Linked DNA regions of Homo sapiens. The protein of the gene in region 5 purifies or fractionates together with the protein of the main gene of each other region. This does not show direct contact. Each region holds a gene or a part of one and is shown on either strand. Other genes may lie near its edges.

What was found.
Region 1: the proteins of CDH13 (region 5) and TMX4 purify together in Homo sapiens (affinity purification with mass spectrometry; one large-scale study listed by BioGRID and IntAct). This does not show direct contact.
Region 2: the proteins of CDH13 (region 5) and DSTYK purify together in Homo sapiens (affinity purification with mass spectrometry; 2 studies listed by BioGRID and IntAct, with this or other methods). This does not show direct contact.
Region 3: the proteins of CDH13 (region 5) and SEC14L1 purify together in Homo sapiens (affinity purification with mass spectrometry; 2 studies listed by BioGRID and IntAct, with this or other methods). This does not show direct contact.
Region 4: the proteins of CDH13 (region 5) and PIGU purify together in Homo sapiens (affinity purification with mass spectrometry; one large-scale study listed by BioGRID and IntAct). This does not show direct contact.
Region 6: the proteins of CDH13 (region 5) and UQCC1 purify together in Homo sapiens (affinity purification with mass spectrometry; one large-scale study listed by BioGRID and IntAct). This does not show direct contact.
Region 7: the proteins of CDH13 (region 5) and ZBTB18 purify together in Homo sapiens (co-immunoprecipitation; one large-scale study listed by IntAct). This does not show direct contact.

What each region holds. Positions count from the first base shown.
Region 1 is NC_000020.11:7,995,762-7,999,261, forward strand, and holds part of TMX4 (thioredoxin-related transmembrane protein 4 precursor), read right to left. Parts: intron 311-3,500; coding exon 265-310; intron 1-264.
Region 2 is NC_000001.11:205,159,703-205,163,202, forward strand, and holds part of DSTYK (dual serine/threonine and tyrosine protein kinase), read right to left. Parts: intron 3,305-3,500; coding exon 3,221-3,304; intron 2,511-3,220; coding exon 2,334-2,510; intron 1,686-2,333; coding exon 1,556-1,685; intron 569-1,555; coding exon 412-568; intron 1-411. UniProt on the Homo sapiens protein: Acts as a positive regulator of ERK phosphorylation downstream of fibroblast growth factor-receptor activation. Involved in the regulation of both caspase-dependent apoptosis and caspase-independent cell death.
Region 3 is NC_000017.11:77,199,969-77,203,468, reverse strand, and holds part of SEC14L1 (SEC14-like protein 1), read right to left. Parts: intron 2,986-3,500; coding exon 2,796-2,985; intron 1-2,795.
Region 4 is NC_000020.11:34,562,093-34,565,592, forward strand, and holds part of PIGU (GPI-anchor transamidase component PIGU), read right to left. Parts: intron 1-3,500. UniProt on the Homo sapiens protein: Component of the glycosylphosphatidylinositol-anchor (GPI-anchor) transamidase (GPI-T) complex that catalyzes the formation of the linkage between a proprotein and a GPI-anchor and participates in GPI anchored protein biosynthesis.
Region 5 is NC_000016.10:82,625,476-82,629,768, forward strand, and holds the start of CDH13 (cadherin-13 isoform 1 preproprotein), read left to right. Parts: upstream 1-1,493; 5' UTR 1,494-1,582; coding exon of another isoform or gene 1,583-1,617; coding exon 1,618-1,662; intron 1,663-4,293.
Region 6 is NC_000020.11:35,349,474-35,352,973, reverse strand, and holds part of UQCC1 (ubiquinol-cytochrome c reductase complex assembly factor 1), read left to right. Parts: intron 1-3,500. UniProt on the Homo sapiens protein: Required for the assembly of the ubiquinol-cytochrome c reductase complex (mitochondrial respiratory chain complex III or cytochrome b-c1 complex). Involved in cytochrome b translation and/or stability.
Region 7 is NC_000001.11:244,054,283-244,057,976, reverse strand, and holds the end of ZBTB18 (zinc finger and BTB domain-containing protein 18), read right to left. Parts: coding exon 2,607-3,694; 3' UTR 501-2,606; downstream 1-500.

The DNA.
Region 1 (3,500 bases), on a different chromosome or scaffold from region 5:
AGCCGTTTTGCTTGGATGAAAGACTTCACCACTGATTTAAGAAAATAAGACCTCGACACAGTAGTTACAGGTTACTGTTCAGATTATGCCCTTCTACATGACGACATTACCACTGGAAACCCCACATGAGAGTAGTTGCATGGCTTAAGAAAAAAAGTGAAATTATAAATGTACTTATAAATGTTTGTTTTCCTATTGCTTAAAAGCTGTATTTTTATTCTTAACCTCTCTGCAAATATAAACGTTTTATTTAAGATTACTTACCCATATCTTGCCAGAGATGCTAAAAAGACCAGCCATTCCAGACATCCTTAAAAAAAAATAAAGAGAAGAAACAGTGATCATATATACTATAAAAAAAAAATGAAAATCAGGTCAGGAGGACTGGTCTATTTCCCTCCACTTCTTGCTAAATATTGCCCCCTCTCCCAGATTCATATCTGTTCTTACAGAGCTTAGATTCAGTGGCTATCATTTGAATCACTCTGCTGTAAATCTATTCCAACTCCTTGGCCCTTTCTCCTTTCATTGTGCCTACCCGGCAAAAATCTCAACACTGAGCAGCTGAATGTCTCCAGGGAAAAAACATCACATAACCAGATGACAGTTCTTTCTGCTTCATAGTCCCAAACCTAAGTGGACACGTAATACTGTCCAGCACTTTCTAAGCTCTAAGAAAATAGCTCATTTCCTTTTCCTTCTCTTCAAAACGTACACATCTTCCCATCCCCATGTACTCAGCTAACAAGCACTCCTCATATGTCACTGTGAAATCAGAAGCCACCATGTGCTTTCTCTCATCTTCCCACTACCAAATCTGAGCCTGGTGTCCACCTGCATCCACCTTCTCTTGTTATGACAGGAAAAGTCTAACTCTCTTATCACAGTCCAATTCCTCCACTTGTGCCTTGGATCCTATCCATTTTGTCTTATTAGGACTTGGTTCTTTCTCTCATCCTCCCTTCCTGCACGAGCAACTTCTCTCTCTCTCCTAGAACAGTCTCACTGGCATATGAACATGCTCTACTCTCTTTTACCCTTTAAAAAGAGTATCCCTGGACCTCACATGACCCTCCAGCTTCACAGATAAATTTCTCCAGATTACTCTACACATGCTGTTTCTTCTCTACTGTACCTTTAATCGATTAAAATCTGGCTTCCACCCTCACCACTACAGGAACAGATTGTCAAGGCCATGATGACCTCACCATGTTTCATTCAATGTCCATGTCTCAGACCTGATCTCCCTTCGCCTCTTAGTAACATGGGATACAAGAGACTACGCCCTTCTTCTTGAACACTCATTTGGCTTCTGGAAAATGGCAGACCTTGGTTTTCATGTTGCCTCTCTGGTACTCATTTTCAGTTTCCTTTGGCTGACTTCTCAACACAGTTTCTTAATTTGGGGGTGGCCCATGACTCATCCCCAAGTACTCTTCTCTTTTTCCTTCTTTCTAGGTGTTCCCCTCACCTCAACATTGTCTGTAGGTTTTTTTGTGTTCCTGAATTCTTCATGGGGACCCATTTCCATGCATCTGATATGCTTTGAATCTGTATCCCCACCCAAATCGTATGTTCAATTTGTGAGATATGATAAGGTTTCCCTTCAAATAGCCTAATCAATCTTTTAATTCAGAGTTAACCACCCCCTCTTTTTTTCCTTTTTCCTTTCTGCCTTTGTTAAATGCGCAGGCATGCCACAATACCAGCCATTATCAGTACCAACTCACATTCCTTTCCTTATTTAAAAAAAAAAAAACAACTTTCTGACTCACTACAGACACCCTTTCCCCTTTCCTCTTTCTTCTATGTGCCCACCTTATCTAAAAAAATTCAAATGTTTAGCCAACTAAAATTAGTTTATACACCTGACCCCAGCCAATAAAAAAAGGATACAGGGGCAAGACTTGCGTCAAAAATAAAGGCTCTCGTACTCCTTTGTTCAAGTGTGCTCTCATGGCGACTGGCCAAAAAGGCACCTCTCTGCGCAAAAATAAAATTGCTTTGCTAAATATCCTTTGTTCAAGTGTTCAATTTCTTAAAATTGTAAGCATTATTCCTAACAAATTGTAATCCCTAATGCTGGAGGTGGGGTCTGGTGGAAAGAGAGTGGATCATGGGGGCGGATTCTCATGAATAGTTTAGCACCATCCACTTGGTGCTATTCTCTTGATAATGAGTGATCTCTCAGGAGATTTGGTTGTTTAACAGTGTGTGGCACCTCCATCCTTCTCTCTTGCTCCTACTCTGGCCATGTGATGTTATGTGCTTCCCCTTCGCCTTCCACCATGATTATAAGTTTCCTGAAGCCTCCCCAGAAGCCAAGCAGATGCCAGCATCATCCTTCCTGTACAGCCTGTAGAACCATGAGCCAATTAAACATCTTTTCTTTATAAATTACCCAGTCTCAAGTATTCCTTTATAGCAATGCAAGAATGGACTAATACAGCATCCACTGTGACAGTTCTACAAAGTCTGCATCTCAAACCCAACAAGATTTATACAGAATCCTTAATTTTCTCTTGCCCAAGGCAATAACAAGTACCAAGATCCATCATGTACTCAAACCAGAAACTTGTAAGTTTTTATTAATGAATCCTTCTTCTCCTTCACCTTGGCCAAGCCTACCTTCATAACATATTTAAAATCCACTCAGCCTCTCCATCCCCACATCCCCACTGCTGCCACCTGACACAAGCTACCACTCTAAGCCTCAACTCACTTCATCCATTCTTGCCCTCTCCAATCTCCTCTCCTAAGGGTCACCTTCTCCTTGTGTGTGCTGATCACTTCCAACTTCTTTCCTGTGGCCACAGGCCCTGCATGACCTGGCTTCAGCCTGCCCCTCTTACTCAGCTCATCCTACATTCCCTTTCACTATGCTTGACCCTGGTCACCATTCTGCTCCTTAAGTACACCAAGCTCCTTTCCAAACTGGGGCTTATGCATATGCCATACCCATTCCTGGGAATAATCTTCCCTCTGCTCTTTGCCTAAGCTAGTTCCTTCTATCATTCAGATCTCACCTAGAGGCGTCCCTTCAGAGAAATGTCTCCTACTCCCTCCATCTAGAAGAGCAGGTCCATAACCCCAGAGCTATCCCATCTTTGTAAAATATGTTGTTGTGTTTTTTATCCACCCTCATCCCAACTATGATTCTCTGTACCTGAGGTGAATGTCTGTCTTGTTCAGTGTTGAATACCTAGCACCTAGGAAAGTATCTGGCTAAATCAGTGCTCAAATGGTTGTAGAATGAAATGTGAGAGTTGTTTTTAGAGTAAGCTATGTGTTTCCTTAATATTAATATAGATGCCACTAGATGATTTACTCCTGAAATATTGCTTGATTTGCTCCTTTTTCAGTAGGGAAATTTCTTACACTTGTATATACTAACATAAAATTATCTATATATATGACAATCCATTCAAAACTAAAACCAACTGTGGAAAAAGCTGTTATGGTTTGGCCTAATCTACCTCACCAAGTATTATACAGTTTGC
Region 2 (3,500 bases), on a different chromosome or scaffold from region 5:
GGCTACAAGGCTTGGGCTCTAATCCTGCATGCCATGCCACAATGTATGAGACAATAATTTCCAGACCATGCTTAGGACAGGTCCAGAGGTAATGGCCCTCAGTGCAGACAGAGCCCTCAGTACAGACAGAGCATGGCCTCTTCAACAAGGATGAAGAATCCTGGATTCTAAAAACTGATAAGGCTTAAGGACTAAAGAAGAAAGTTAAATGGAATGATGAGTCTGAGAAATTAGGATGGTGGGGAAAGAGCAAGCAAAGACAGTAAAGGCCTGAAAGGGAGCACATGTCTGTTAGACACAGAAAACTAAATATAGAGAGGCCATGCTGTAGCTCTTGGTACAAAATCTAAACCAGGGTTCTAGATTCTTCTCTGGATCTTTCTCATAGAGATGAATGAGGCCAGGACCCACCTCATATAGTGAAATTCCAAAGCCAGATCATTCCAGTGCTTCTCATCTGGAGGGACAACTGATTTGAGGGCACAAGGGAAGTGTCCTCCCCAGTTGTCACACAGGTATACCACACCATACTGGCCCCGGCCCAGTTCCTGTCCCAGTTTAGGTTTACCTATAAGGTACAGAGACAGAGATAAGGCAGGAGGAATGGGAACTTCGTGGGCAACCTCTGTAAGATTCTTTTTTTTTTTTTTTGAGACAGAGTCTTGTTCTGTCACCCAAGCAGGAGTGCAGTGGCATGATCTCTGCTCACTGCAACCTCTGCCTCCTGGGTTCAAGCGATTATTCTGCCTCAGGCTCCCAAGTAGTTGGGATTACAGGCATACGCCACCACGCACAGCTAATTTTTACAGTTTTATTAGAGACGGGGTTTTGCCACATTGCCCAGGGTGGTCCCGAACTCCTGGGCTCAAGTGATCCACCCACCGTGGCCTCCCAAAGTACTGGGATTACAGGCATAAGCCACCATGCTGGCCCTGTAACATTCTTCATTGTGAACCTGCCTTTAGGGTCAGGAAGCTGTAATCAAGCCCAGGGATAAAATTCTAGTGTCATTCTAACCCAATAGAAAATAATCTAACTGGTTTAATTCAAATAAACTGTGGTTATGTGGTTTTTTGTTTTTTGTTGTTTTTTTTTTTGGAGACAGAGTCTTGCTCTGTCACCCAGGCTGCAGTGCAGTGGTATGATCTTGGCTCACTGCAACCTCTACTTCCTGGGTTCAAGTGAATCTTCTGCCTGAGCCTCCTGAGGAGCTGGGGTTGCAAAGTGCCACCACGCCCAGCTAATTTTTTTAGTAGAGATGGGGTCTTGCCATATCGCCTAGGCTGGTCTTGAACTTCTGAGCTCAGGCAGTCCACCCACCTCAGCCTCCCAAAGTACTAAGATTACAGGTGTGAGCCACCACACCTGGCCTGGTCATGTTATTTGAACTATATAAATAGCAGGAAGAGACTTTAGGAATTCAAAAACATCAGTAAGGGTTTAGGCAGCTTTGCAAAGAAGCAGCTTTAGACACTAGGATTCTCTGAGGCTGGACATAAGAATGTCAGGTATCCTGAACCATCCTCCAGTTTATCTAGAAGAAAACCAGACTCACGATGAAGCAAGACATCCTGTAAAGAACAGCTTTCCAGAGAAAGGCGGGCCAGGCGGGGAGCATGATCTTTCCGAACCCTCAGCCATAGATCTTCCGTTTTCTCTAACCGGCCTGAGTGGCCAGCTTCCAGCTGGGAGAGAAACAGAAAAAGTACATATGACTTAAGTCCCTAGCTTCAGCTTCCTCACCTGTTATACAGGGATAATAATATCTACTTCATATAGATAATTGTGAGAATTAAACAAGATACATGTAACATGTTTAGCACAGAGACTGGCACAGAGTAGACTCTCAATAAATAATAACTTTTCCTCCTGGATGCATACTCACATCTATCCACTCTCTGCCTGGACACACCCACTCCCCGCCAGTGGACAATCAGATGTCAAACAATTATGAAATATAGAAGTTGGAAAGTCATGTCCTTCTGTCATTTGTTCCTAAAATACTATATAAACATACAAAATTCCTACTCCTATTATCTTTCCTCACTCTGAAATGGGCAGGAATTAACTGAGCTCACTCCATTCTCCCGAGAGTTAGGAAAATATCCACATGAAAAATTTATTGAAAAAACTTCCTATAACAATCTAGAAAGAAAATATACTGATGATTTTAATATACATATGTGTGTGTGTGTATATATATGTGTATATATATGTATACACACACAGACACACACACATATTATATATGAAGAGCGGAGAGCGAAATATTCCCATCTGGATGAGGCTCTTCTCTGCTTGATCCAGCTGTATCTCCTTTCCTACATACCAACCTGCCGCAAGGAGGCTGCAAAAGCCTCGTGGGAACTATTGAGCCGAGTCCGGAATTGGCTGCAAATGCTCTTAGCCAATTTGGAGGCGCTGAGGCTCTCAATGGCTTCCTGGGCCACCTTCCTCTTCCATTCCAGAGTGATGGCAGGTGGGCTCACCCATGTGATGCGCTGGATGATCTACCAGGATGAAGACAGCGAGATCACCAAGGAATGAGAGACAAGAACCACTACAAAGATCCAGTGTCCTTCCTTTTCTGGGTTACCCATTCATTAAGAGCAGGCTCATAAGATGGGAGCCATACGAAGTCCAAAGTTCCTTTCCAATTCCATCTACCACAAAATCAGGTCCTAGCCCAGAGAAAAGCATCAAAGAACACCAGGCCTAGTCTACATGCTCACAAACCCTCAATATATTACATTCAGTGCCAGGGAGTGCCTGATAATCTTTCTGAAGTCAGTAAATAACTCTACATAAGAGCCAGATCAAATTCCAGAACAGAAACCACATTCACAGCCTCTGGCAACAACAAAGCCTAGTTCTGAGAAAAGATTTAGGCTGGGAAAAAGAAATATGAAGAAGCTAGTGTGGTAGAGTCTTATGGCTCCATGAAATATCATTTATCTTTTTTTTCTATTTTTCCATTGTCCACAAAGAGCACCCAACATAAAAATCATTTAAACCCAAAACTTCTGAGAGTTCAAGGGAACAATGTTAATAATTATTTAAGAATAGGCATAAACCAGAATTCTCCCAGGCAGGCAAACCAGAACAAATGGTCACCCTGCCTTAACAGAAGATCCTAGATATCTGTTTCCTACTGGGGTCACTATGATTCATTTGAGCCAACTAGGGGCTTTGAAATCTTTCTCTAAGTAATAATCCCTACCTGTTTGATTTGCTCCCATAGCATCCTTGTAACTGACGACCCTGAGTGAAACGTGACTTCAACATGATAGGCAGCATTTAAGATCTGAAAGAGACAACGCCAAAGAAAACATGTCCTCAGTAGTGTGGCTATTTTAAAAATGCAATAAATGATACTTATTTCAAGAACACAGTCCAGACTCAGGGTTTCCAAACTTACCCCTCAATATATATGCAGAGTCAACTTAAGCTGATTATTTATTTTGTGACTATCTAGCCCCTTCTACCTCATCTTTATATTC
Region 3 (3,500 bases), on a different chromosome or scaffold from region 5:
AGGGGCGCTTAAAAGTCTTTCTGATTCTTAGAAGTGGCAACTGATTTGTGTGATAGGGGGTGTGTGTCCAATATTTACCCCAAAAAGCTGTAAGCGAGAAAAATAAAAACCAACTGACAGGGTAGCTGTGCAGGGTCCTGGAAATAGAAGGCTGTGCCGGGATGAGGGGAATCCGGCTGGGACTCACTCAGCTCGAGCTGCATAAGTGCTGGGCTCAGTCTGAACAACTGCCCATAAGCTGGGCTCACTTTGAACAACTGGGGCTGCCCAAGAGCTCTGATTTTCAACGGCAAGGGAACATCAAACTATCCAGACACTTTTTCTATGACTACAGAGTACTTTTAAAATTTTCTTTCTTAGAAAATCATTTTTTTTCATGTCATAGATTACTAAAAACTGAATGAAAGCTTTTTAAAAGCCAGCTTCCCTCAATTCCCACTCTAAGGACCAAGACAAATGAGAACATTCTAAAAATCCTTAAAACCCCACCAAGCAGCCTGTGTTGGCTCTACTCTGTTTTTTTTTTTTTTTTATTTTTTTATTTTTTTTAGAGAGAGAGTCTCTCCCTGTCACCCAAGCTGGAGTGCAGTGGCACGATCTCAGCTCACTGCAACCTCTGCCTGCAGGTTCAAGCAATTCTCCTGCCTCAGCCTCCCAAGTAGCTGGAACTACAGGCGCACGCTGCCATGCCCGGCTAATTTTTTGTATTTTACTAGAGACAGGGTTTCACCGTGTTGCCCAGGCTGGTCTCAAAATCCTGAGCTCAGGCAATCCGCCTGCCTCCGCCTCCCAAACTTCTAGGATTATAGGCGTGAGCCACTGTGCTGGGCCTCCTTTTTTGTTTTTTATTTGAGACGAAGTCTTGCTCTGTCGCCAGGCTGGAGTGCACTGGCACGATCTCGGCTCACTGCAACCTCCGCCTCCCAGGTTCAAGCGATTCTCCTGCCTCAGCCTCCCGAATAGCTGGGACTACAGGTGTGTGCCACCACGCCCAGCTAATTTTTGTATTTTTAGTAGAGACGGGGTTTCACCATGCTGGCCAGGATGGTCTTGAACTCCTGATCTCAGGTGATCCACCCGCTTCAGCCTCCCAAAGTGCTGGGATTACAGGTGTGAGCCACCGCGCCCAGCCTCCTTTTTTTTTAAGTAGAGACAACAACTCACTGTGTTGCCCAGGCTAGTCTTGAAGTCCTGGGTCCAAGCCATCCTCCTGCCTTGGCCTCCCAAAATGCTGGGATTACGGGCATGAGCCACTGGGCCTGGCCTGACTCTACTTCTTTATAGCCTGGAGGTCTAATGGGTGCCGCCTGAGAGGAGCCTAACTCCTATCATACTGCCCTATCATCATGGGCCATCTACACAAAGGGGAAAAAGAGCTTGGTGGCCATAGTGTATCCCTAGAGTCAGCACTGCCTAGCCTCCTGCCGCACAGTCCCAGAAGGCGCAGCAGGAGGAATACAGACGATTGTGCTCCTGAAAAGGAACCAAGACTTGTCTTCGGTGGTTACCAGAAGACCAGCAGTGTCGTCCCAGCATGGGGCAGAGGGTTAGAGGGTAACATTTATCTTGTATTTGTCACCTAGTGAACTTCATCTCCCAGGAGAGTCTAGCTCTAGACCTGGTCTACTTAAAGCAAAACATTTTTATGTGCTCCAAAATCTTACGGAAAGGCCTATTTACAGAAAGTTTCTCCCAACGTTTAATAAGACACATTTGTTGAGGCCGGGCGCAATGGCTCACGCCTGTAATTCCTGCACTTTTGGAGGCCAAGGTGGGCAGATCACGAGGTCAGGAGTTCGAGACCAGCCTGGCCAATATGGTGAAACCCCATCTCTACTAAAAATACAAAAAGTAGCCGGGCGTGGTGGTGCACACCTGTAGTCCCAACTACTCGGGAGGCTGAGGCGGGAGAATTGCTTGAACCCGGAAGGTGGAGGGTGCAGTAGGCTGAGATCTTGCCACTGGACTCCAGCCTTGGGGACAGAGCGAGACTCTGTCTCAAAAAAAAAAAAAAAAGACACATTTGTCAATGTCTTACTACCAAACTTTTTAACAATACAAAAGATGAAGTCATAATCACAGACAAAGCTGAGCTGCTCGGTTCTGCAAGGACTTGTTCAGAGGGTAAAAGAACCAGTTCTACGGTGCTTCCCTCTCGCCGACGTTTCCAATTCCATCCTGCCCGGCTCTCAAACTTTGGCTCAGGAAAGAGTGTATTTTTGACAGTGCAGGTCTTCCTGCAAGGCAGGGTATGGAAGGCATTTGGGGGAACTGTGTTTTAAGGTTCTCATTTAAACCACTCTTCATTTCAGGTGCATCGCCCCCCTTCATCCAGGCCTTACTTACTCCCAAAGCAGAACTGAAGTGCTCAGGGCTGTGATGTAGAAAACCGGGCTGAACCGTTTTAAGCTATCATAGGGTTTAAGTCATTGAAAAGTCCCTTTATTAACACTGCACTACTGAAAATACTCTGCCAGAGGCACTGCTGTCTTTTTAATAGGTCAAAACAAACTGTACTGCACCGAGCAAGTGAAGTCATTTGCCCAAGGATGACGTGTGTCCATGAGGAAAGAGCAGTCCCAGGCCCTTCCTGGCTGCCCGGGGCGGGACGGGAGTGTGCCCGTGGTGACACGTATCAGTCTGTTCAACTTGGGAAAGGTGCCAAATTCTCAGAGTGAGGAGAAACGATGCACTCAAGGGGGCCCCACTCAACTCCAGGGAAGGAGGCCTTGGAAGATATCTTCAACCACACATCAAGACAACGATGGAAACACAGTTTCAACTCCATCCGGTACCTTTGTCGTGATGATGCCAGCCTCCCGCGTAGTAATCCTGAAGGACCTGAGGAGGGGTCCAGGTTTCAAGAATGTAGTCTACCTGATGCTGCTTTCTCCACGTCAAAGACTGACACATGATCTCTCTGGCTTTGTCAATATTAAAATCCCGTGCACGGAGGAACCGAAGAATATGCTCATCTTTTGGAATCTATTAAGAGAAAAAGACATTTCTAAGCAATGTTAAAAGTTGTGAAGGGAACTTTGGGAGGCTGCGGTGGACGGATCGCTTGAGCTCAGGAGTTCAAGACCAGCCTGGCCAATATGGTGAAATGCCATCTCTACTAAAAATACAAAAATCAGCCAGGCATGGTGGTGCATGCCTGTAATCCCAGCTACTCGGAGGCTGAAGCAGGCGGATCACTTGAACCTGGGAGGTGGAGGCTGCAGCGAGCCGAGATCACATTACTGCCCTAAAAAAAAAGTTGCTAAGGGAATAAGACCCTAAAATTCCCACTTTTCTTTTGGAGACAGGGACTCTTATTCTGCCACCCAGGCTGGAGTGTTGTGGCATGATCTCAGCTCACTGCAGCCCCCAACTACTGGGCTTAGGCAATCCTCCCACCTCAGCCTCCTGAGCAGCTGGAACCACAGGCACACGCCACCACGCCCAGCTCATTTTTGTATTTGTAGAGATGTGGTTTCCCCATGTTGCCCAGGCTGGTC
Region 4 (3,500 bases), on a different chromosome or scaffold from region 5:
TGTCTCTTCAAGGAGGCCCAGAAAGGAATAGGGATTTGCCAAGGGCCCTATACACCAGACCCGGAGTCTGCAATCCCAGTCAGCCCAAGCTTCCCAAGACCACTGGTCCCTGGAGCAGGTTGGGCAGGGCCCAGCCTCAGAGAAGGATGAGGGGACAGGGGCTCACACTACAGACACCGCAGCTCTCAGGCACCTGGAGGCCTCAGAGGATTGGCACCAACCACCTGGCACAGATGGGGAGACTGAGGCACAGAGCACTTGGCTATGGTCTTGGGGCAAGACAGGTTGAGCTAAGCCTGGGATCTAGACCTCCAGACCCTGTCCTGGGCAGCTTCTCACTGACCTGAAGGTAACACAACAGCAGCTAAGGAGAGATCAGAGGCGCCTGGAGGAGTTCAGGAAGGTGTCCTGTCACCAGCAGCTCTGATGGCCTCAGGACAAGTACCTGCCATTCTATCACCACAGAAGCCCATCTGGAAGGTTGAACAATCCTCATCTTAAACAGATGGGGAAACTGAGACTCAAAGGGTTCAATGGTTGGCCTAAGGCTACACCTGGAGCACTGGACTAATGGCCATGGACCCAGAAAGGTGGTCTGCCTGGGGCCCAGATCACTGATGAGCACGAGATTGGTCACAGCGTCAGCAAAGCAGACAGAGCTCAGGCAGCCCCCGAGGCCCTGCCCCCAGCTGCCCAGCTGGCAGCTCCAGGCTGGCCCACTGGGGGGCAGTGATCACAGCAAAGGCTGACCTCATACCCTGCAGCCCTTTCTCACCCAGGCCCGAGATGCCATCTGGGCAGGAGGAGCCCAAAGCAGGGGCTGAGCTCAGAGGCTGATCCCTGAACCAGGTCAGCTGAGGGGCAGGTGCAGTCACAATCCACAACAATCAAAACGAAGCAACTCCATGTCACACAATAATCATCTGGACAAGAAGCAGGAAGAAAAAGATTAGGTTATTAGGTTGGACCATATGAAATTGCCAGTTTTGCAGATAAAAAAATGGTTGAATACTGGCAATTTCATATGATCCAACCTAATATAAAACGGAAAAACGTACACATGGAAAAGTAAGCATGTTATTTAGAAGTACCAACAGAAATAACAGTAAGACTTTAGGTAGCTATTCTTTTCCCCTATAAGCCTTAACTTTGCAAACTACATACATGTATTCCATTGATAAAAATAAAACTTCGGCGAGGTGCGGTGGCTCATGCCTGTAATCCCAGCACTTTGGGAGGCCGAAGCAGGCGGATCACCTGAGGTTGGGAGTTCGAGACCAGCCTGACCAACATGGAGAAACCCCGTCTCTACTAAAAATACAAAATTAGCCGGGCATGGTGGCGCATGCCTGTAATCCCAGCTACTTGGGAGGCTGAAGGCAGGAGAATGGTTTGAACCTGGGAGGCGGAGATGCGCCATTGCACTCCAGCCTAGGCAACAAGAGCGAAACTGCGTCTCAAAAAGTAATAATAAAAAATAAAGCTTCAATTAAAACAAATCAGCCAATAAATCAATGAATCAATACATCAATGGGGGGGGGGAGATAAATCTTCCTTCCAGAAGAATTCCAAACAATGTAGGTAGTTATATCCCCCTCCCATAGAAGGAGCTTAATTCTTGTCCACTCTGCATCTCCTAAGCCTAGGGGGGTCTAGACTTGGTTACTCACTTCCTCCTGAGGAGCAGGGAAAGGGAAAAGAGTAACTTTACAGTGGAGAGACCTGGCCAACACTATCTTAACCACGTGGTGGAGGTTAACATCAGCTTGAAATCACGTGGCTAGCATGTAACCCCAATAGATGTGATGAGAAGGGCACTTTGCCTGGGGTATTCTTTCTAAAAACCCACAACCCCAGGATAGTCCTAAGAAAAGCATCAGACAAACCTAAACTGGGGGACAAACCTAAATTGGGTGACATTCTACAAGATACCTGGCCAGCGCTCCTCAACTGTCAAGGTCATGAGAAGTCAGAAAAGACTAAGAAGAAAAGCAGAAGACACTGGGGAGATGTGACCTTACATGTAATGTGGACCTCTCGATGGGGTCCTGGTAGAGAAAGAGGCTGTGACTGGAACAACAGGAAATCCAAATCCATTCTAGTGTTTCAGACTAATAGTAACGTATCAGGGTGAGTGTCTTAGTTTTGACAAACACATCACGGTAAAATATAAGATGTTAACAACTTAGGCAACTAGGTGGGGGCTTACAGGAACTCTGTTCTATCTCTGCAACTTTTCTATAAATCTAAAGTGATTCTAAAATAAAAAGTTTATTTAAAAAATAAATGAACTAGCTGGGAATGGTGGCTTGTGCCTGTAATTCCAGCTACTCGGGAAGCCGAGGCAAGGGGATCCCTTAAGCCCAGGAGGTCGACCTGGGCAACAGAGCAAAACTCCAGCTCTTGAAACAGGAAAAAAATTAACAGCAATGACCTATTGTTGTATGTAACAAACTCAAAATATTTTGCTGAGTGAAAGAGAGCTTTGGCAAATGTACACAAAAGATTTGCACTTTTCCCTGTATAATAAATTTTACATAAGAAAATGATACACATGCTGAAATATTTAGCAGGAAATGTACTGATGTCTGCATTTCAATTTGAAATACACTAAAAAAGTAAGATGGACTGAGGGATGATGGAAGAAGTACCTGAAGATGTGAATGGTGGACTCCCGCTGGTGGGTATGTATATGGGTGTCCAATGCTAAAGCTGTCAACTCTGCTGTGTGTGTGGAAATCTGGAGGATAAAGGGGGTGGCGGGAAGAGCCCTGTGAGCGGCTTGGGCACACAGCCCTGGGTGTCATCAGTCCTGAGTGAGCACCCTGCCCCCAGGGAGAGGACACCAGGCTGGCCGAGAGGCCTGGCCCTTTCAGAGGGAAGCCTGTAGCCAGGACAACCTCTTCTGACCTTGGGGCTTTCCATTTGGGCCGTGAGGAGAGCAGGGATTTCCCAGAGGCCCTAGGGTGCAGCCAACACAGCAGCTGCAGACCCAGAGCCCCTTTGCCCAGTCTGGACAGGGGCGAGTTGGGCAAGGGGCTGTGGAATTTGCATGGGCGAGTCAGCGGCTGTGTGATATTAAGTCTCTTCCTGTCCCCTGGGCTGCATTTTCCTCATCTGGAAAATGACAGTAATAGGCTCTAGCTTGTTACCAACAATGCTGGGCTCCTCTAGTTTTTTTTTGAGACGAAGTCTCGCTCTGTCACCCAGGCTGGAGTGCAATGGTGTGATCTCAGCTCACTGCAACCTCCGCGGTTCAAGTGATTCTCCCGCCTCAGCCTCCCGAGAAAGCTGGGACTACAAGCGTGCGCCACCACCCCTGGCTAGTTTTTTCTTTTTTTGTATTTTTAGTAGAGACGGGGTTTCACCATGATAGCCAGGATGGTCTCGATCTCCAGACCTCATGATCCGCCCACCTCAGCCTCCCAGTGCTGGTATTACAGGCATGAGCCACCGCGCCCGGCCGGGCTCCTCTAGTCTTTGTGCCAGTTAGGACCCCA
Region 5 (4,293 bases):
GACCTTCTGACCAAACAGCAGCCAATGAAGGAATCTTAAAAGGCACATCACTTTATATTTATTCAGTGGTTATGTCATCACTTAATCCTCACCACAACCTTGTGAGTTCAGTAGAATTTGTGTTTTCATTTTATCTGTGAACAAATGGAGGCAGAGAGTTTGAGTAATTTACAAGTAAGTGGCAGATCCGGGGGCTGTGCCTAGACAATGTGGCTCCAGACTCCTTGCCCCTCCCTGCCTTCTGCTGCATCTTGATTGAGTCTAGCCATCTATTTCTTTAACACACACTAATTGCTGTCTCCATGTTCCAGGCCCTGTGCCAGATGCTAGAAATACATCCCCATCCACTGGATCTTGGCATGGTCCATTGCTCAGTGTCCTGCTATGTTACGTGTTACATAATGCATTTATTCCGGTATTTAGCCCATGGAAAATAATGCTGAAAGACATTGTATGCATGTTTCTACAACAAAACTATGTAACTTATGTTTCTTTTATTGCTTTGGCTATCAGGAAGCTCTTATCCAAATCAGAGCAAATACATTAGAATTTGGGCTTGTCATTTCAGTTTGCTGAACTTTTCCTTCTGGCCCAGATTTTCTATTTTGGTTCATAAATTCTATTGCACAAATGTCCTTTATTGTAAAACACCTTAAATTCTTTCTAAGGGAAGGCTGCATGGAAATGATACAGTAAGGTCTTCCCTGCATTTTCTTAGATTCCTATTAGGGAAGGCAGACCTAGATGTCCCTCTTACCCTCAGTCCCAAAGCCCCCCATTTATAAAATCCCTTAAGCAGTGACTACTGCTGTTCTGAGTACCTGGAGGTAGTTCAGAGCTTCTGAAAGGTAACATCCATATACAAAAAGAAGTTCCTTCCGATCCAGATCCCAGCTTTGGTGCCAGATGCACATTTGAGGAGTAGGTGGCTAGTCAGACTCTCACCTGAGCAGTTAATAAAATCTATTGCCCCTTAATGGAATTTTTTCTGCAAGCTCGAATTGATCTGTCATCTTTGTGATTTGTGAGATGGCAGGGAAGCACCAAACACCATCATGACTTGGGCCACAGTGGGGGGAAAAAAGGAAAAAAGAAAAAAAAAATCCACTGCCAAGCCTTGCCAGGCGTAGAAAGGGCTGGAACTGCTGGGGCCATTTTATCTGATTTATTGGAAATAGAGTGGATCTTATTAACATTTTAATAAAGAGAATCTTTTTGCACTAGGCTGGAAGTGGCCGCCAGTCCCCCGTGCAATTCCATTCTCTGGAAAAGTGGAATCAGCTGGCATTGCCCAGCGTGATTTGTGAGGCTGAGCCCCAACAGTCCAAAGAAGCAAATGGGATGCCACCTCCGCGGGGCTCGCTCCTCGCGAGGTGCTCACCCCGTATCTGCCATGCAAAACGAGGGAGCGTTAGGAAGGAATCCGTCTTGTAAAGCCATTGGTCCTGGTCATCAGCCTCTACCCAATGCTTTCGTGATGCTGCTGCTGATCTATTTGGGAAGTTGGCTGGCTGGCGAGGCAGAGCCTCTCCTCAAAGCCTGGCTCCCACGGAAAATATGCTCAGTGCAGCCGCGTGCATGAATGAAAACGCCGCCGGGCGCTTCTAGTCGGACAAAATGCAGCCGAGAACTCCGCTCGTTCTGTGCGTTCTCCTGTCCCAGGTAGGGAAGAGGGGCTGCCGGGCGCGCTCTGCGCCCCGTTTCTGCATTCGGATCGCCCGGCACGGGCAGGGTGAGGGGGCTTTCGGGGGGTCGGGGCCTCCGGTCGCGGCGGCGAAGACAGATCGGGGCTCGGTAGGGAGGTCATTCCGAGCCCAGAGATCCTAGGCACCCCCCACACACAGGCTCCCACTCTGGCGTGCGTGTGTGTGTGTGTGTGTGTGTGTGTGTGTGTGTGTGTGTGTGTACGTTCGTTAACGGGAGGAGGAGAGAGCTCCCAGTCCTTTTTTGCTAGCAGGGGCGACATTCTCGCCCACATCAAGTGGGGTAACTTTGGTTCCCTCCTCCGGAGGCTCGGTGCATTGGAGAAAGACTCAGTTAGAGGCGACTCCAACGAGCCGCGGTTTTCCCCAGCCCAACGCCCAGCGGCCGAAGCGCTGCTCGGGTCCGGATTGCGGGATGCGGGGCTGGAGAGGCCGAGCAGGCACCACCGACTTCCCAGGGCGCCCGGGCCCCCTGGTACAGCCCGGCTGCCCGCTGGAAGGCGCCTCGGGGCAGCAGAGAGCCTCAGCCCGGCTGCTGCTGTCGCTCAAAGGCGCCGGCGCCGGCCGCACCCGCATCGGGGTCCTTTTGCTCCCAGACCCCGGGCCCGAAAGGGCCGGAGCGTGTCCCCCGCCAGGGCGCAGGCCCCAGCCCCCCGCACCCCTATTGTCCAGCCAGCTGGAGCTCCGGCCAGATCCCGGGCTGCCGCCTCTGCTGCCTTCCCTGAGCGGGAGCGGAGCGCAGAGAAAAGTTCAAGCCTTGCCCACCCGGGCTGCAGCTGCTTGTTAACCCTCAGAGCGCCACGGCGCGAGGGAAGGGCACGCCAACCAGGAGAGGGGGCGAGGGAGATGCGGTCCGCCTGCAGTCACCTCTGCACCTCAGAGATTTCGGGAAGTTTGAGTGCAGGAAAGCAGCGCTCCGAGGCCAGGCCTGGGGTGCTGGCCGCTGCGGGGGGCACGCCCTGCGCTGCTCAGGGGCCTGTGGTTTCGGAGAGCACCCCGATCCAGTCCCCCATCGCCTCTCTGGCAGGCGTTGGGACTTGGAGTGAGCTGGCAGCCTGCAAGTGGGTGGATAAGAGCCAGGGCAGGGCAGGGCCGGGCAGAGTAAGGAGGGAAAGAGACAGGGAGTGCCTCAGGGTGCTAGGAATGAGTGTTGAGTTCCTGGCCGGGGTAGAGGCTCAGGTGAGAGTTTGCGGGTGAAAGGCAGGGGAAGGGAGTTGGGTTCCCAGGTAGGGACTGTCTGGGATGGGGAGACTGGTGCAGACTTCTAAGGGAGACCACTGTTAGAGCAATGTTGGGTTTAGACTTTGGAAATGGGCTAACATCTCAGAAATGCAGTGATGGGTGATAGTACCAGGGGAGATTCAAGTGCCCGGCTGCTGAGCCCGCTCCCAAGCTCCTGACTTCTTTCTTGGATATACAGTCCCGATTAAGGACTGCCCAGTTATAGCTCCTTTTCTACCAGGCTTTTCTGGTTGATTATCTTGGGGTCCCTACAGCCTTGAGTCTTGCCATGGATCCCAAGCCTGGCTGTGAACCAGTTTTCCAGATGTCCTGTACCCTAGAGACCCCAAGGCTGTATGTGTGTACATATACCCCAATTTAGCAAGGCGGTTTGGAGCATGCCTCAGACAGAAAGGATTCAGACAGATCCTTCCTGCCATCTGCTAGTGGTACCAACCCGGGCAAGTTGTTTAACCTCTTTGAGCTTCCAAGTTCTCCATTGTAAAATAATCTGCTGCCTTCCTAGGACTGCTGAGTGGATAGGATTGCATTCAACAGGATGTCCTATGCAATGCATGCCAGTCTGGGAGCTGTCGGTGTCTGAGAGCACTTACCATTGCCTTGTCCAGGACTTCACAGTCCTCTTTCTTTCTTGGCAGGTTTCAACCTCAGTTCATATTCCAGGGCTTGCCCAAAGTTATGCCTCCTTTAAAGCAAGACAGACCACGTGACAGGGCCCCAGGATCGATTTTTATGCACTAAGGGCTCTGCGCACGGTTCTTTTTGCAAATGAACTGGTGTGTCTCCTCACCCAGGGCCAGGCTGGCACAGGTGGGTTCTGAAGGCTCACTCTATTTATTTAGATGAAGGAAGCAGAGATTTTGCTGTGAATTGAAATGATTGCCCTGAGAGGCTTATTTCTATTTTCAATTGTTATGCATATCAGAGCAAATGTCCACATTAGGATAGTAATTGATATCCTGGTAGCAATAGTACCTCACAGAGAAATCATTTTGATGCAATCCAGTTAACCAGCAAGAAGTTCACGTGCAGAACTCTGTGTGCCATAGAAAAAAGTGGGGAAAGTCTTCGAGGCCTTGAGTCGACGAGCAAAAACACAACTTTCCTGAGGCAGAGAGAAAACAGAAGGGAAAAACAATGTAATAAAACAAATTAGTCACTCGGCCCTGGTGGTGTTCAGGCAAGCCTGTATGTTTTTTTCCACCACAGTTGTAAAGCATCGGGTCTGGCTTTGGAAGCCATCAATCTCTGTAAGCTTATTGGCTTGGTTGTTGTTTTAGGCATTTTGGTAGGAGGTGAGGAATTCTAAGCAACAATGACTGGAAGCTGGCACCGTTGAACAGTCACC
Region 6 (3,500 bases), on a different chromosome or scaffold from region 5:
GCGCAGTGGCTCGTGCCTGTATCTTAGCACTTTGGGAGGCCAAGGTAGATCACTTGAGCCCAGGAATTCGAGACCAGCCTGGGCAAGATGGTGAGACCCTGCCTCTACAAAAAAATTTAAAAAATTAGCCGGGCTCAGTGGCGTGCACCCGTAGTCCTAGCTACTTAGGATGCCGAGGCAGGAGGATAGCTTGAGTCCAAGAGTTTGAGGTTACAGTGAGATGTGATTGTATCACAGCACTGCAGTCTGGGTGACAAAGTGAGAACCTGTCTCTGAAAAAAACAAAAACCAAACTGTGACTCAAACACTCACATTAGCCTAGGCCTCTACCAGGTCAGGATCATCTAGACCAGGTGATAGGAATTTTTCTGCTCCATTATAATCTTATGGGACCACTCTCATATGTGTGGTCTCTTGCTGACCAAAATTGTTATGTGGTACATGACTATATTCACCAAATTTGTCCTTTTCCAGCCCTGGTGATATTTGTATATTTAATTATAGGATTGAGGCTGGGAAGAAAAGGTTAACTTCTCAGAGACTCATCTCCGGTCAGTGCTAAGGAGCGAATCTTCTTCCAGTAGCTGGCCACTCTCTGCTGAGCAAAGTCCATACTTTTTCTTAGCAAGTCATTTCAAAGCTCTTCATGACCTTTCTGGCTTCAGTTTTCTGCATCCTATACCCTGTCCTCCCCACAATCTAGGTATTCATTGTTACCTTAACATCCTGAACTCTTCCATGGCCCTGCCTTTGCTTAGAACATTCCATCAGCTGGACATTCCCTTTGTCTTTTGTCTCAACCTCTTCAACTTCAGCTTATCCTTCTAAGATCCAGGTACAGTGTTTCATTTTCCATGAAGCTTTCTCTGATTCTACTCAGCCAAAAGTCATCCTTTTAAACTTCATTGCACTCTTCTCTTGGGAGATCTATGGCATTCCCTTTTAGGGCTGTTGATGTGTGGTGTACCTTATCTCCCCTAGAGGAAACTGCTCCATAAAAGCTGGGTTCTAGTTTTAGCCATCACTATAATCCCCACAGCATCCAACCATACACCTTCACACAATAGGAACTCCTGTGTTCATTGAGTGAATTGTCAGTCACCATTTTGAAAGTGTCTTCATTTTGCCTTATCTTTTCAACTGGATAACCATTTGAGCCCACTGTTATCTGTAAGGGCTATAGAACAAACTGTGTTGTGAAACAAAAAACACTTCATCCCATGTTGATACAGTTAGAAAGTTTATGGTCTGAGAAAATCTGTGCCTTTTAAACCTCAGAGGGCAGGTGTATTAACAAACTACAGAATTTTCAAATAAATGAAGAATTCCATTACCTCACTATTGCTGTTGATGAATTGGCCTCTGACAACACTTAAGCATCAAAACACACAGCGTCTTTTCAGGTGAGAGGCTGACATGAGGGATTTGATTAACTTTAGAAAAGTCTTATGAAAAAGGACTGTTGAACTTTTCCCCAGTTTGTTTCTGCTGTGGAATAGGCTCTGTGTCCTATAAAGTAGCCAAATCTTTTTTCTGTGACCTGTTTCATTATTGTCACAAAGTGCTTTTTTTTTTTTTTTTTGAGATGGAGTCTTGCCCTGTTGCCCAGGCTGGAGTGCAGTGGCGTGATCTTTGACTTACTGCAATCTCTGCCTCCCGGGTTCAAGAGATTCTCCTGCCGCAGTGTCTCGAGTAGCTGGGATTACAGGCACGCGCCACCATACCTGGCTAATTTTTGTATTTTTAGTAGAAACAGGGTTTCACCACATTGGCCAGGCTGGTCTTGAACTCTTGACCTCAAGTAATCCGCTCACCTCAGCCTCCCAAAGTGCTGGGATTACAGGTGTAAGCCACCACACCCAGCCTACAAAGTGCTATTTCTTAAGCACTACCTGGGGTCAGAGGTTACAGGTTTTTTGTTTTTTTGTTTTGAGACAAGAGTCTTGCTCTTTTGACCAGGCTGGAGTGCAGTGGCGCGATCTTGGCCCACTGCAACCTCCACCCCTCGGGTTCAAGCAATTGTCCTGTCTCAGCTTCCCAAGTAGCTGGGACTACAGGTTTGTACCACCACGCCCGGTTAATTTTTTGTATTTTTGGGAGAGACGGGGTTTCACCATGTTGGTCAGGCTGGTCTTGAACTCCTGACCTCAGGTGATCCACCCACCTCGGCCTCCCAAAGTGTTGGAATTACAGGTGTGAGCCACTGCGCCTGGCCTACAAGTTTCGAATCACATCAGTAAATCTCATTTGGGATCATGTAGTCAGCCTTCTTTTTATTTTCAGATGGAATCTCACTCTGTCGCCCAGGCTGGAGTGCAGTGGTGCGATCTTGGCACTGCAACCTCTGCCTCCTGGGTTCAAGCATTTCTCCTGCCTCAGCCTCTGGAGTAGCTGGATTACAAGCGCACACCACCACACCTGGCTAATTTTTGTGTTTTTGGTAGAGATGGGGTTTCACCATGTTGGACAGGTTGGTCTCGAACTCCTGACCTCAGGTGATCCACTGGCCTTGGCCTCCCAAAGTGCTAGGATTACAGGTGTGAGCCACTGCACCTGGTCATGTTGTCAACCTTCTGTCAGATACCCGAGTTCCCACCAAGCGTTGATTCACTTCTCCGTGACAGACAAATTCTCTACTTTTTGAGGTTGTCAGTTTGATTATTCAAATCTTCAGACACTCAGGCCAGGCACAGTGGCTCATGCCTATAATCCCAGGGCTTTGGGAGGCCGAGGTGGAAGGATGGCTTGAGTCCAAGAATTTGAAGTTACAGTGGGCTATGATTGTGTCACTGCACTCCAGCCTGGGTGACAGAGCAAGACCCTGTCTCTAAAATTAAAAAAACAAAACTTTAGACATTCCTGTTAGTAAGCTTTTAATTTTGCTGTTCAATGTTGATTATATCTTTCTCCCTCTATGGCCTGCCCATTGGTTCTGATTCTAACTCTTTGGTTTTGTTTGTTTGTTTGTTTGTTTGTTTGTTGAGACAGGGTCTCACTCCATTACCCAGACTGGAGTTCAGTGGCACCATCGTGGCTCACTGCAGCCTTGACCTTTTGGGAGGGATCCTCCTGCCTCAGCCTCCTGAGTAGCTGGGACTACAGGCATGCACCACGGCACCTGACTAATTTTCATATTTTTTGTAGAATCGGGGTCCAACTGTGTTGCCCAGGTTGGTCTCAAACATCTGGGCTCAAGTGATTTTCCTGCCTTGGCCTCCCAAATGCTGGGATTATAGGTGTGAACCACCAGGCCTGACCTGATTCTCTTTGGTAAACAGTTTAATTGCTTTTCTACAATGTTTAAGTCAACTTTCCTGTTTTTCTCCAGGTTAAATATCTTCTGGTCTTCTTAAGATACTTCTAGTCCTCCTATTTCTTAAAATGTAATGTTCAAAACTGTGGATAGTATTCCAAATACGTTCTGGTTTGTGTTGAGTATAACAAAAGTCTCACTTTACACATTGATGGTATTATATTTGCATTACTGTATCTAAAATCAC
Region 7 (3,694 bases), on a different chromosome or scaffold from region 5:
GGATGTATATAGCTAATCGTGAACAATTGCATGCCTGCTAATTCAATTGCCTAGAATTCCAGTCATTAGCCAAGCAGTCTTCCAAATTAAAACATCCGGTCTCCTTCAATTTTCCACTTAAACCAGAACACAGGAGAATAGATTTGACCGATCAACTTAGGATAAAATTACACACGAAAAGTGACTTACGGTATATGGATTAGTAGTTGTACAGTGTATTTTTAACAACCTATGCTGCCACGTAGTTTCATGATTCATGAGTTTCTAGGGAATTACCTCAACATTCTTGATGTAGATTGTGAAAATGGGTCGCATTTTTTAAATGTGCATTTAGTATCTTCTTAAGTGACTAGAATGCTTACACATTTTCCACTCGAGTGATTTAAGGCATTCTAATAATTTCATAAACTCCGAATAGAATTGATATTAAAGATGCCAGGTATGATACATATTTAGAATCTATACACTACATAATCACAATAAAAAATACACACAAGAAATTCTCAGTTCATATAATTTATTGCAGTTAGCACACAGTTTAAAAATTCACCAACACACCAATAGTACAAAACTAAACAGCATTATAAGTTATTCCCCCTCAGGAAAATAAAACATACTATGATTGTCAAAGCTAGATGTCAGTCTAAGTTTTAGAACAAAGGAAGAATGTGAAACTAAGAAAAGGAAAAAGCAATCACTCACAATGACCACAAAAAGAAAATCCAAAAGAAAGTCCGTTTTCTCACAGACATTGATTGTCTTCTCTAAATTAATAAAAATTATTTTAACATAAACTGTATTTTAAAAAAACTAGAAACTCTTCAAGTAACTAAAGATAATGCTCCAAGGCCATTTTCACAGCTTTTTTTGTTTGTTTGTTTGCTTTAAATGCCATTACAGCCAAATTAACACACATTTAACCAAATATTTCCAAAACAGTCCAGCAACACACAATGGAGTTTTCCATTCAGTATCTTAAGCACAAAAATAGGCTATGTTTACAGTAGTTAAGGCGATCAAATTTTAAACAAAAGCAATTAAAAAAAAAAGGGAAAAACAGCAAACGTTTTCCATGCTACTCCCATAGACCTTATTTGTAAGTGCAAGACAGGAAAACAAACACTGTGCAAAATGCTTTTGCCTTGCGTGCTGGTCATTAAAACCACACGTTAGGCTGCAGCCTCTGCTGCCGCAATCCACATAGTCTACTAACCCCCTTCCCCATGTCAATCAAGGCAGTCCAGTCCTTTCAGCCTGGGGCTTTTTCAGTCCATAGAATCTTTTCATGAGTTGGGGGTGGAGGGTGGTGGTGGGGGGGGAGAGTAAGGGAGGGAGGGTAAGGAGGAAGGGGAGAAAAAGAAAAAGGGAGCAAACAAAAAAAAAGAGAGAACGACCTATTGTCAACTTGTGCAGTAGTTATTCTAAGAACGCTCAACTGGGTAAATGTGTACACCTAAACTCTGAGCTGGCATGGGTTTTGTGCAATTAGAAGTTTGTTATAAATGCACACTGCACATGCAAATCTTTAAGCTGTTTGTAAACATTTATATTTTCCTTGTTATGTAGCGAAGTTATCAATTTGCAGCTTAAGTTTTTATTCAGCTTAACAGTTTCAACTTAAAGACAGTGGGAAAGTCAATTTAAATTATATAAAATAAAAATAAAAACAGTGCATTTACGTTCTTCATAACACCAGTTTTTTTTTCCAAATGGTGTTATTTTTCTAAGGAAATTAAATAATTTTAAACTCACTCGTTAAAGTTATACAATGCAAACAAAGACAAAAAATATATTGAAACTCATGCATTTCTGTAGCGTTAATATTTACTTTTCAAGACTCAACTAAGAGCATCAACACAACCTGTCAAGTTCTTTGACACCCCCCCAGCCCATGTAATCAATTACAGTATACAATAACAGTAATTCACATTTTTAAACACACAGTTCAACACTGCTGAAGCTGCAATATCCTTTTTCATCCCAAGCAAACCTTCATAAGACAGTGTCCCAGTGATCCCAGTGTACTTTCAGCATTTCTCTCACTGGGAACTGTCAGAAAACCAGAAGTTGCCACAGAAAGTTTTAAGTCAACTGCTTGTTTAAAAATAGATAATCCAGCATTTCAGAAATTTTCCATTTGGGTCTAAAAGCATTCAGGTTTCCAACAGCCAGAAAAAATTCATGCAATTTGAGACATATAAAGAGGCTAATAAAACTGGAGGGAATTTCTACTTAAAAAAAAAAACAAAAAACAAAAAAACTTTGTTGGGGGGGAAAAAAGAGCTCAAAAGACAATGCAGTGTTGACAAAATTAAGCCATATGAAAGCATTTTGTGACAGGACGATTTGTTTAAAAGGTTCTTATTGGCTTACTTCCCCTATCCCCTCAAAGGAAAAACACCTCTCTATTCTGACTTGCTCTAAAGTTTCTTTTATCAGAATGCTAAATTAGTGAGATTCTCATGCTATTCTAAAGTGCAAAAACAAGTTAATATCCCAACTTTTTATTTCCAGGAAACAAGACTGCTTTTAGACCGTACCACAACTATATAGAGATCTATTTATATATATGTATATATATATATATTATTTATATATATATAAAATTATTTCCAAAGTTCTTGAGAGCTATCTTCTAAGGTCCAGTCTCTGACAGTAGGCAAGCTCAGTGCTTCGCTTTTGACCGACAAGGAGTTCACCAACTCACAGTGGAACTTGCGAATGTGTCTGTACAGGTCCCCGGACTGCGTGAACCTGCGCTCGCACCACTTGCAGGCGTGCGGCTTCTCGCGGGTGTGCACCACGGCATGGCGGCTCAGGTTGTGCGAGTACTGGAAGCTCTTGCCGCACTGGGTGCATGTGTAGGGCTTCTCCCCCGAGTGAGTCCTCTCGTGGCGCTTGAGGGTGTACATGCAAGAGAAAGTCTTCCCACACAGCGAGCACGTGGGCACGTTGACATCGGCGGCGGGCTTGCTGCGGATGCCGTCCTGCTCGCGGAAGTGCGTGCTCAGGTGGATCTGCAGGATGTGGGGGCTGGGGAAGACCTTGTTGCACAGGGGGCACATGAAGATCTGGCCCGCGGGGCTCAGGATGTTGGAGACGTAGGGGAGCAGACTGCTCTCCATGCCTCCCTCCACCTGGACACGCTCGCTCTCTGGGGTCATCATCTCATCATCACTGGCTTTGTCCTCCCGGTCCAGCTCCCTCAAGACCGAGTCCTCCCTCAGGGGAGCCAGATGGGCCGGCTCATACTGTACCCTGTTATTAGTGCTCACACTTTCTTTCACAGTGCTATGTTCCATGTCATAGTCATTAGTGCCAACATCACTCTCATCACAGGAAGCCTCTTTCTCCACCTTCACCTGCACCAGGTTGCTTCTCAGCACGTCCTGTGAAGAGAAATAAGAGCTGTTCAGATTTTCAACTCCTGAAAGGCTGGACTTGACAGACAGGTCCAGCACACAGTCAACATCTGCCGAATCCCTCACGGAGGTGACAGACCTCTGGGACAAAGACTCTGTTGAGCTGCAGGGGCTGGCTACTGTTTTTCCAGCTGCTGTGGCGTGTGGCTCTGCCTCTCCGCCAGCCTGGGGGATGCCTGCTGAGTCTGAGGGCAATCGCATCCACATGTTCCCAGGCTCGGCCGCCAAGTCCCTTTTGCTGGGCAGGATGTTCAATTTTTCATCTTCTCCTT